Regions from separate parts of the Homo sapiens genome. Here region 2 is linked to region 1. The links come from fine-mapping of genetic effects on gene expression. A gene starts in region 1. The other region holds a variant in brackets. All regions are shown on one strand. Distances are from middle to middle.

Evidence for each region. PIP is the estimated chance that this variant, and not a neighbour inherited with it, causes the effect. A credible set is the group of variants that fine-mapping cannot tell apart.
Region 2: its variant is the best candidate, but not a certain one, in a credible set for the expression of HACE1 in skeletal muscle (GTEx, PIP 0.63).

Annotation. Positions count from the first base shown.
Region 1 is chr6:104,857,112-104,862,492 of GRCh38, reverse strand. It overlaps HACE1 (HECT domain and ankyrin repeat containing E3 ubiquitin protein ligase 1), which reads left to right and starts at 2,574. Exons shown (of 24, transcript NM_020771.4): 1 at 2,574-2,926. The coding sequence starts at 2,851. It also overlaps the pseudogene LOC100422315. RefSeq lists enhancers at 2,485-2,779, 2,394-2,893 and a silencer at 2,516-3,145.
Region 2 is chr6:104,703,940-104,709,320 of GRCh38, reverse strand. No RefSeq gene overlaps it. Among named protein-coding and RNA genes, the nearest start is that of HACE1, 150 kb to the left of the region's middle. The variant C/T (reference allele first, on the strand shown) is at 2,316.

The sequences.
Region 1 (5,381 bases):
TGACCATGGATATATTTAGATTTATTTCTACTGCTACTTTATGTTTTGTTTTTATGACCATTTTTCTTTGCTTCCCACCCATTTCCTGCCTTTTGTTGAACAGATTGTTTTTCTCTTCTCTTTCCCTTAATGCTTGGGAATCTTCAATAAAACCAATTTCCAGGAAGAAAAAAATACCAGATATACAAAAAAGAAAGTTGAAACTGTCTGGGCCACAGAAGAACCTGGGTTATCATTAGTGAAAAACTCTACGCTTTTGTTAATGGAACTTATGATACAAAGTGCCCTTTTGAAACTTCCACTTGATGTTTTTGGTGTTGGTGACAGGTGAGAAAATCTACTCTTTAGCTAATAATAATCTATAAGAAGCTGTTTAGCTGTTTTGGTGTTCTCCTGGGCAGCTTTCTTCTTGGTGTGATAAGTTGCCCTGTCTAATACGGTAACCACAAGGCACATACAGCTATTTAACTTAATTAGTTTCATTACTTATACTTTAATACAAATTTAAAATTCAGTTGCACCAGCCACATTTCAAGCACCCAGTAACCCCATTTGGTTAGTGGATGCTATTTTGGACATTGCAGATTATAGAATATTTCTATCATTGCAGAAAGTTCTGTTGGACAGGAGGTGATAAGCTGATAGTAGTACTGCAGCTTTATACATTTTGAAGCAGAGCTATTGGGAGACGGCATCATATTGCAGAATTTGGAACTGACAATTCACATCAGCATTACCTGTTCCATTATCTTCTGCTCCTGTGGTGAACAGTGACCAGCATGAGATGCAATGCCCACCATGGAGGCTGCTGGGGGCTCCTACCCCTGCCCACAAACTCCAGGCTTGGTCCTCACAGGACGTTGGAGGTAATTTATATGGAGCAACAGCCTAGAGAGCAATGGTGATAACAGCAGCTGAGAGAAGCTGAGGGGCCAACTTCTGTACAGCAGTGGGAATCCTGACTTTTTGAATAGCATAAGAGGCCAAGCAAGACTGGAACATTTTTAGTTGAAGCCAGGTTGCAAATGGTTGAGCCTGGGCTAGACTGGTCCATAACGTCTGGTATTTCTTTCTTCCTTTCCTTTTTTTTTGAGACAGGGTCTCGCTCTGTCACCCAGGCTGGAGTGCAATGGCAGGATCTCAGCTCACTGCAGCCTCTGTCTCTCGGGTTCAAGCGATTCTCCTGCCTAAGCCTCCCGAGTAGCTGGGATTTCAGAGGCACACCACCACGCCCGGCTAATTTTTGTATATACATATTTTTAGTAGAGACAGGGTTTTACCATGTTGGCCAGGCTGGTCTCAAACTCCTGACCTCAAGTGATCCGCCTGCCTTGGCCTCACAAAGTGCTGGGATTACAGGCATGAGCCACTGCGCCCAGCCTCTGGTATTCTTTTGAAACTTTGACCTCTACCACCTTGTTGCCAGACTGGTTTAGGTATCATCTGATTAGGTGAAGATTACAGAGGTCTTCCCCGTGCCTGTGGCACCACTGGCACAAATGGTCACTAGCTGGAACTGATTTAGGACGGCACTGGCAGGGAAAACACATGCCAACCACCATCTGCCCCTTCATATCCTGAATGGGCAGGTGAGACTCTCTTTCACTTGGCCAGCCAACATACATCATCAACGTACATGTGCCCATTCATTTCAGGAACAGCTTTGTCTCTTTGAGGAAGAGAAGCTGAAAAAGACAAGCCTTTTGTTTCTCCCTCACTCCAGCATCATCTTGGCACTGGTAATATATCCAAGATATATTGGTGTTAGCCAGGCTCACATTTACCCCTTTGATTGGGTTAATTTTTTGAAGTTCCAACTTCTGTTGTTTCAAGTGTTCAACTTCTGTGCAGAGCTTATGAATATGATTTTTCGCCACTGAGTTCATTTCTTCCACAATGTAGGTATCCAAATTTTTTGTAACTTACAAAGTCAAATCCTTTGGATTTCCCACTAGGCTGTGTCATCACATAGACACTTTAGCATTGTACCAAATAAATGAAAAAATTTTTTCAGGTTGTCATCATTCATATCTTCCCCAGAGCTTTAACTTTGTGCTAGGTGCCTTGTTAAGTACAGGGATACAACACAGTTCAAGATTAAATGTCCCTGCCCTCATAAAGCCGCCCGGCAGGAAAAACAACTAATTAAGCTATTGTCAAGTTATTTACAATGAAGACAAAAGCACAATATGCTTTTGGATTTGTTTGATTTTATTACTCTTTAAGTTTGACATATGAAAATACCATACTTAAAACAGTTCATGTAGGGTACCTGAAACAAAGGCACTAATACAGTACTAGAAAGGTGGTGACGGATTTAAGAACAATTGTGCCAATTTCTAATCTGTTTTATAGTAAAGTTATAGAATTGGAGGAAACTGCTCCTGTACAACTTTGGAGGAGGGTAGGAGGAGCAGGGCGTGAGAATGCCTTTCCAGAAGCTTAGGAGTACGCCCAGTCGCTGCGTGGCTTCCCGCATACTCAGCCCTGCGCCCGCGTTGGCGTGGCCTGGGCGCCCCCAACGTGACTCCGCCCAGGGCGCTCCGTTCTGCCAGCTGGAAACTACAGTTCCCAGAAGGCCACGCGAGCCCGGGAGGGACGCGGCGGCGGGGGCTGCAGGAAAGGCGCGAGCAGAGGCGGCGGCGGGTGTACTGTAGGTGGTCGGTCCGGCAGCAGCCCGGCCCCCGGACGCAGGACGTGGCCCCAGGCAGCCCTCGCAGCTCAGTGCTCTAGCCGGGGCAAGCCCGCGTCTCCGCCTGCTGGACGGGCCCAGGCGAGATGTAGGGCTCTGGGCGCGGAGGCCGCCGGTGGGGCGGCTGATCGCGGAGGATCGCGGAGGGCGCGCCGAGGATGGAGAGAGCGATGGAGCAACTCAACCGCCTGACGCGCTCGCTGCGCCGCGCGCGCACCGTGGAGTTGCCCGAGGGTGAGCCGGGTCGCGGGGCCAGGCTGGCCGCGGGGCTGGGGGCGGCCAGTGGGGCAGGAGCTCCGGCCGCGTCAAGGTCGGGTGGAAAAACTAACTGAAAGCTGAGAAAACGCCCACTTTTACTTTCCAGAGCTGAGAGGCGGCCCCGGGCCCCGAACTCCCCTGGCCCGACGCTCCCACCCCGGCAGGTGGGAGTTTTCGGGAGGAAACTGGGTTGGTGGGGGTTCCGCTGCTGGGAGGAGCGAGACAAAGGTCTCGCAACGTCTGTCGATTAGGGGTCTTGGCAAAGGGGCAGGAATACCAGCCGGAGGCCCGAGACCCGGAGTCAGAAAACATCATAATTGCGGGTCATTTAACAGTAGCTGGGGATAGAGATGATCCAAAGATACTGTTTACTTTAAGCTGCATCGGGGGGCCAGGCGGGCTTTTATTTTTGTTATTTTTTAAAATGTGGGGCACTGCCTTGTTTTGATAACAGGCAAACAAAGGGTTGTCAAACATCAAACAGGTACTCTTAAAGTACTGTATGGGTAAACACAATATATTTTTCTTTAATATGCATGCCTGCCTTCATTCTTCATTTATTCATCAGACTAGTATTGAGTGGGCTAGCTGGTAACTAGGACGCATCTGCAAAGAGGAATAAGGCATGGTCCCTGAGGATCAGGACTTTTAGTTCAGCGTGCCAGGGTTCCCTCAGGACAGGTAAAACTCTGCTAATAACAAGGAGAGAAAATAAGCAGTTTTGTTTGCAGCGTCAGGAATTCAGACATTTTAGTGGTGATGGGAGACAGCAGTGCTGCTTCTAAGAAGCTTTTGGCTCTTTATGCCCAAGTGAGAGAAGGGTTGGGAGGAGGTTGTAGCTGGTGAATAGCTTTTTTCTTAATTGTAGTAGTTTATCTTACTTTTTCAAAACTCTCTTTGAATTGCTGCTGGGTGGTTTGTAGGATAGGGAAGGAGACCTTGGCAGACGGTCATGAAAGAAATGTGGGATTGGGTACTTTGGCGATAATTTTCTTTCCTTTCTTTTATAGAGATGAGGTCTCACTATGTTCCCCAGGCTGGTCTTGAACTCCTGGGCTCAAGTGATCCGCACCCTGCTCCCCCCAAAGTGTTGGGATTACAGATGTGAGCCACCGCGCCTGGCCTGGGGATAATCTTCTTGAAAAAATGGTCTCTAGTCTCTATTTAGAATTCAGATTTTGGTAACTAGATTCTAGCTTCAACTTTTTCTATATTTTCTTTCCAACTTCCACCTTTGAATCCATTTCTTAAGTGCTACTCTTACTTATTTTTCGTAGTCGAATTATTGGTATAGCTTTATGAAGACTACATGTATAATTTATATTGTCTAGTTTGAATCCCGATATTTTTTACATAAATGTGATTTAGAAGACTTTGATAATGTTACTTGGTTTTAAAAGTAATATAGTTTCATTGTAGAAAATTTGGAAAATAAAGAAAAATAGAAAAAAATATGTCATTTCACCATCCAGTTATAAACAGTGTTACCATTGTTATTTCTTTTTCCCTCCCTAACAAGTTAAAATCATGTTGCATATAGTCTTTTATTTTGTGTTTAGAAAACATCCTTTTTTTTTTTTTTTTTTGAGACGGAGTCTCACTCTGTCGCCCAGGCTGGAGTGCAGTGGCGCCATCTCGACTCACTGCAAGCTCTGCCTCCGGGGTTCACGCTATTCTCCTGCCTCAGCCTTCCCAGTAGTTGGGACTACAGGCCCCTGCCACCAGGCCCGGCTAATTTTTTGTATTTTTAGTAGAGACGGGGTTTCACCGTGTTAGCTAGGATGGTCTCGATCGCCTGACCTCGTGATCTGCCCGCCTCGGCCTCCCAAAGTGCTGGGGGATTACAGGCGTGAGCCACCGTGCCCCGCCCCAAATGTTTTTTTTTTTTTGTATTCTTCAATAGGCTTAATGACTTCAGAATTTCATAGGATGCATGTAACAAATGTTGAATCTAAATACTGTTTTTAAACTGATTTTATGAGAAACAGCTTTGTATTTAAGACATAGTCTGCCTCTAAATACTTCCTTAGGGTTAATTCTTACAAGAAGAATATCTACAATACATTTCTAAGGCTCAACATATCAGTTTCTCAACTTACTCCTTGGAAAGTTCCACCAGCAGTCCGAGAGTGCCCAGAAACTAGAGTATTATTAGTAAAAGTAAAACTTTTCCACATAGGCAAAAATGGCATCGTTTGCATTTGCTTTTCTTTGATTATAATGTTCATTTTGTTCCTTGAATTTAATTTATCTTTGTCTCTAAGCTCTGATGAGTCTTTGAATTCTCTGAGCTTGGCTCTTTAAAGTATATCATACATATAGGAATATATATATATATATGTAAATATATATGTAAATATATATGTAAATAAATATATATATGTAAATATATATATAACATTCCTACTGATACAAATCCACATTTGTGCTT
Region 2 (5,381 bases), 150 kb after region 1:
GGATGAACATCTTTTCATGTACTTAGTGGCCATTTTATATCTCTTCTTTTGGAGAAATTTCTATTCAAATCCTTTACCCATTTTAAAGCTGAGTCGTTTTTATTATTGAGTTGAAAGAGCTCTTTATATATCTTCAATACCAGTCCTTTTATCAGATACATGATTTGCAAGTATTTTCTATCATTCTGTGGTTGTCTTTTCACTATCTTGAAGATATTGGTTTCAGCATAAAAATTTTAAAATTTGGTGTAGTCCAATTTATCTATATCTTTTTCTGTTACTTATGCTTTTGGCATTGTATCTAAGAAAACATAGTCAACCAAGGACAGAGATTTATATCTAAGTATTCTTCTGAATTTTATAGTTTTAGCTCTTACATCTAGGCCTATAATTCACTTTGAGTTAATTTTTGTGTGTGGTTTAAGGAAGGAGTACAACTTCTTTTGCTTTTCATGTGGATATCCACTTGTCCCAGGACCATTTGTTGAACAGACTATTCTTTCCCCATAGAATCATCTTGACACCTTTGTTGAAAAATCAATTGGCCATAGATGTATGAGTTTATTTCTGGACTCTCAATTCTATTCCATTGATCTATATTCTTATCCTATTCCAGTCTTGTATTGTCTTGATTACTGTAGCCTTGTGGAAAATTTTGAAATCAGGAAGTGTGAGTTCATCAAAATTGCTTTTCTTTGTGAAGTTTGTTTTGGCTATTCTAGGTCCCTTGCATTTTTATATGAATTTTAGTATTATCTTGTCAATTTTTGTCAAAAATATAGTTGAGATTTGACACGGATTGCATTGAATTTGTAGATAAATTTGAGGACTTTTGCCATCTTAACAATAACAAATCTTCTAGAGACCCACAAATACAGGATGTCTTTCCATTTATTTAGGTCTTCTTTATTTTAACAATGTTTTGTAGTTTTCAGTGTACAAGTGTTGCATTTCTTTTGTTAAGTTTATTCTTAAGTACTTTATTCTTTTTGGTTCTATTTTAAATGGAATTTTTCCTTAATTTTACTTTCAGAATGCTTACTGCTAGTACATAGAAATAAATACAACCAATTTTTGTATATTCATCTCAAGTCTTGCAAACTTGTTGAACTCATTTGTTATTTCCAATAGCTTTTTGTGAATTCCTTAGGATTTTATATGCACAAGTTCGTATTATCTGTGAAGAGAGATAGTTTACTTCTTCTTTTCCAATATGAATGTCTTATTTATTTTTCTTGCCTAATTGCCCTGGCTAGAACCTCCATTATGATGTTGAATAGAAGTGGTGAGAGTGGACATCCTATTCTTGGATGGACATCCTCATCCGTTCTTGCTCTTATGGGGAAAGCATTCAGTCTTTCATCATTAAGTGTAATATTAACTGTAGGTTTTCATAAATGCTGTTTTTCAAGTGGAGGGAGATACCTTCTGCCATGGGTTGAATGCGTCCCCTCCCAAATTCATGTTGAAACTTAATTTCCATTGTAATGGTATTAAGAGATGAAGCCTTTTGGAAAGTGGTTAGGTCATGAGGGCCTTGCCCTCATCAGTGGATTAGTGCCTTATAGAAGGATTGGGGGGATCTAGCTCAGCAGACCTTTTTGCCCTTCTACCTTCTACCATTTGAGGATACAGCGTTCACCTCTTCTGCCATGTCAGGATGCAGCAAGGAGGGCTTCACAGACACAGAATGAGGCCTTCCCAGCCTCCAGACCTGTGAGAAATAAATTTTTATTGTTTATAAATTACCCAGTCTATGGTATTTTATTATAGCAGCACAAATAGACTAAGGCATCTTCTATTCCATTCCCAGTTTGGTAAGTGGTTTTATCCAGAAGGGTTGTTGGACTTTGTTAGATACAATACTTTTACTGTGTCTATTGAAATGATCACGAGGTCTTTGTCATTTATTCTGTTTATATGGTTTATTACACTGATTTTTGTTTGTAAACAAACTTTGTTAACTTGCATTACTTGGATAAATCCCACTTGGTCATGGTGTATAATCCTTTTTATATGTTGCTGGGTAAGTTTGCTAGTATTTTATAGAAGATTTTCTAACTTATATTTACAAGGAACCTTGGCTTATAGTTTTCTTTTTTGTGATGCTTTTGCCTGGTTCTGGTATCACAATAATACTGGCCTCATAGAATGAGTTGGGAAGTGTTCCCTCTTGTTCTATTTTTTTTTTTAGAAAACTGCAAAGAATTGGTATTGTTTCAATGAGTGGTAGAATTCACTCAGAGAAGCTGTCTGGTCCTGAGATTTTCTTCATGGTAAATTTAAAATTAGTAACTTACGCTTTTTATCTGTTA[C/T]AGATTTACTGAGATTTTCTATTTCTTCTTGAGTCTTGTTTTGTGTTTGCATTTTCTAGGAGTTTTTCCATTTCATCTAAGTTATCTAATTTATTGGTATATGGTTTTTCATAGTATTCCTTTGTAATGCTTTTTATTTCTGTAAGATTGATAGTGATCTTTCTTTTTTTCCTGATTTTGGTAATTTGAGTCTTTTTCTTTGTCAGTCTACACAAAATTACAGTAGTAATTTATCTATAGGACTTTTATGTGTAGAGTTTGCTTTAATACAGGAATTAAACAAAAATTCCTGAAGGCATTTCTTCTCATTTCTTGGTCTTCCCAGGATGTAACCTCCCCGTTTTCTCTCTACCATGCTCATAAGGATTGCTTACTCCTTCCTTTTATCCCCCAGTTATGCCATCCTCTTCTTTGTCCTTCAGGACACAATTTTGATCTCATATTCCAACATCTAATCAAATCAAGGGGTCCAGTGAAGTACATTTCAATGTCTGTGTGTGTTTCTTTGGTGTCTTTGCCCAATCTCGTGTAGCACTACTGACTCCAGCCTTTTTATTTTAAATTATCACAATTCAGAAATTCACTTTACTTCATAGACGTATTCTAAGTTTCATGCTTGGGAAGTCTATTTTGTTCATGCCATTTGAATTCAAAGTTTAACAACAAACTTGCTGCATCATATTTAGACACCCAGGATTTTGTTTCTGGAAGGATTTTAGAGATTATCCAGGATTAAGCAGCAGCCACTCAGTACCAGTCAGTTGTTGCCAGATGGGAATGAGAACCTACTGTGGCTGGATCTTCTCATTAAAACAAACAAACAAACATAAATCTGGATATTCGTGGGAAACCTCCAAATTTTTAAATGAAAGCAATGAATTAAAAACTCTTAAAACTGTGCTAACGTCAAGGACCCTGTTCTTTTAGTTTATTTGTATCCTGTTTTGTCCTCAGCACGCAATGGATTGGTAATGTTCTTGAAGAGTTTAGTTTAAGGAATTCTAGGAGATTATAGGTCTTGCTGTATCTTAAGAATGACATAAACAAAAAAAAGTTATTATCTTCCGCCCTTTAATATAAATATAGGCTATTTGGAACCAGATGGGTATTAAGAAGCTATGTGAGTGAACTTTCTTCCCTCCTTAAACTTTTACACTTGATTAACTAGTCATTTATGAAGTTGGATCTTCAAAGACACTTTATATTAGCCCTGGGAGTTGTCCCTTCTACTCAGCTAGAAATTGAAGTGATACTTTAAAATTAAGCATCTGTTCTCCTATTCAGCTCAAGCTTTAAGGATTGGTGTCTTCTGGAAGTGAGGTGTCCATAAAGAAGCATCCTGGGCAATTTGACATTCATAGAAAATGGCTTGGAAAACATGCCCATGGTGAGTCCAGCACCATTGTTCGAGGCAAAACTGTCAACATGTTTAAAGCCATCCTGGGAAATGACTAAAGACACGCACATTTTAAAAACTGAAAACGAGTGCTATTTGTTTTGGAGCTAGAGATAGAATACCCCTTTTGATCTTTTTCTTTTTCTCCCTGGCTGATCTCGGGATTTGATTTCTCTATTCAGAAAAAGAGCGTGGTTGAACATTTTGCTCCCTTAAGAGTTTCTGAGCCCTTAACAGCTGACTGGCATAGTCCATAGTTTCCTGATACCTTTCTTAAGATTTCCTTCCTGAGGAAACTGTGTCTCACAGAGGAGGAACGACGCCTCTGACCACATCCTGCTGTTCTTGTGTGTGGTTGAGCAGTTTTTATCAGATCTCAGGGAAAGGCAAGGTGAAGTCACCTCCTAACACTTCTCTTTTTTCCCTATAGACGTTTAGAACTAGAAGCCTTAGAGCTGGCACAACTGGATGTGTAAATATGTTTTGCCAAGTAAGGAGATCCATTTAAACAGGGACCATTTAATGGTGAAAATGAAAATCTTGAGCATTCAGCCTGGGAGATGACTGATGCTGGAGAATGCCAATAAATGTATAAAAATCTCTCTATTGAAAAATCAAAGTGCTTTTACATCCTTGTCTGTGACTTCTGTTTTTAATCCATTTAGGCAATGTTGATTTTTTCTCTCTTAATGAATAGCAATTGAGCTGTACATTTTACATACCAGTAAGTGACTACGAGATGCTTTTGAAAATTAGCCACCAGCAAGTACATTTCACATCTGAAGCAACATTTTGGCAGATGGACTCAGCTTAAAATTGGGACTGCCGTGAATAGTCCCAATTTCAGAATCAAGTTAATTCCATGTGGAACCCCACCAAACCTTTAGGCATTAAACGGAGCATGGTGTAAATCCTCGATGTGTACATTGCACTTGATGAGATGGCTGGCCATCCTAGTAAAAAGTGAGTCCAGAGGCTAGACATCTGGTGTGGTTGTTTTTGCAAAATACATTGTCACATTGCAGCATATAGAAAAATAATAATTGTCATTCTCTTTTGCCGCCATTCCTCCCAGGAGTGTGTTTTTGTCTGCTCTCCTGTCAAAATTATGTTAAACAGTAAAAATAAAAAATATGCTTCATAGTTTTCCAAACTTATCTTTCTCAGTTGGTTGCTCTTAAGGAATGTGACTTATGACCTCTACTTTTGGATGCTGCAGTTTCTTTCTTTCTCACGCATATAAGTAAGGTCTGCTCACAGGGTAAAGGAGGAGGATGTATGTTTTTCCAATGCCGACTTTCTTTTATTACCTGCTTGTATTTATATCAAAGAACATGTTGTATTTCCTCCTTTTCTGAAAGTCACTTACTCCACTTCATTTTGCTTTCCAGTTCTGGTTAATATTTATTATTTTGAAGTCTTAGTTTTATTTTCGTAAACGTTGAGATCTGTGACTTCAAATTATTATTCATTTACCCATTATAAATATCTTTTTTTTTTTTTTTGAGACAGTCTTGCTCTGTCACCCAGGCTGGAAGATAGTGGTGCAACCTTGGCTCACTGCAACCTCTGCCTCCCAGGTTCAAGTGATTCTTGTGCCTCAGACTCCCGAGTAGCTGGGATTACAGGTGTGCACCACCATGCCTGGGTAATTTTTGTATTTTTCGTAG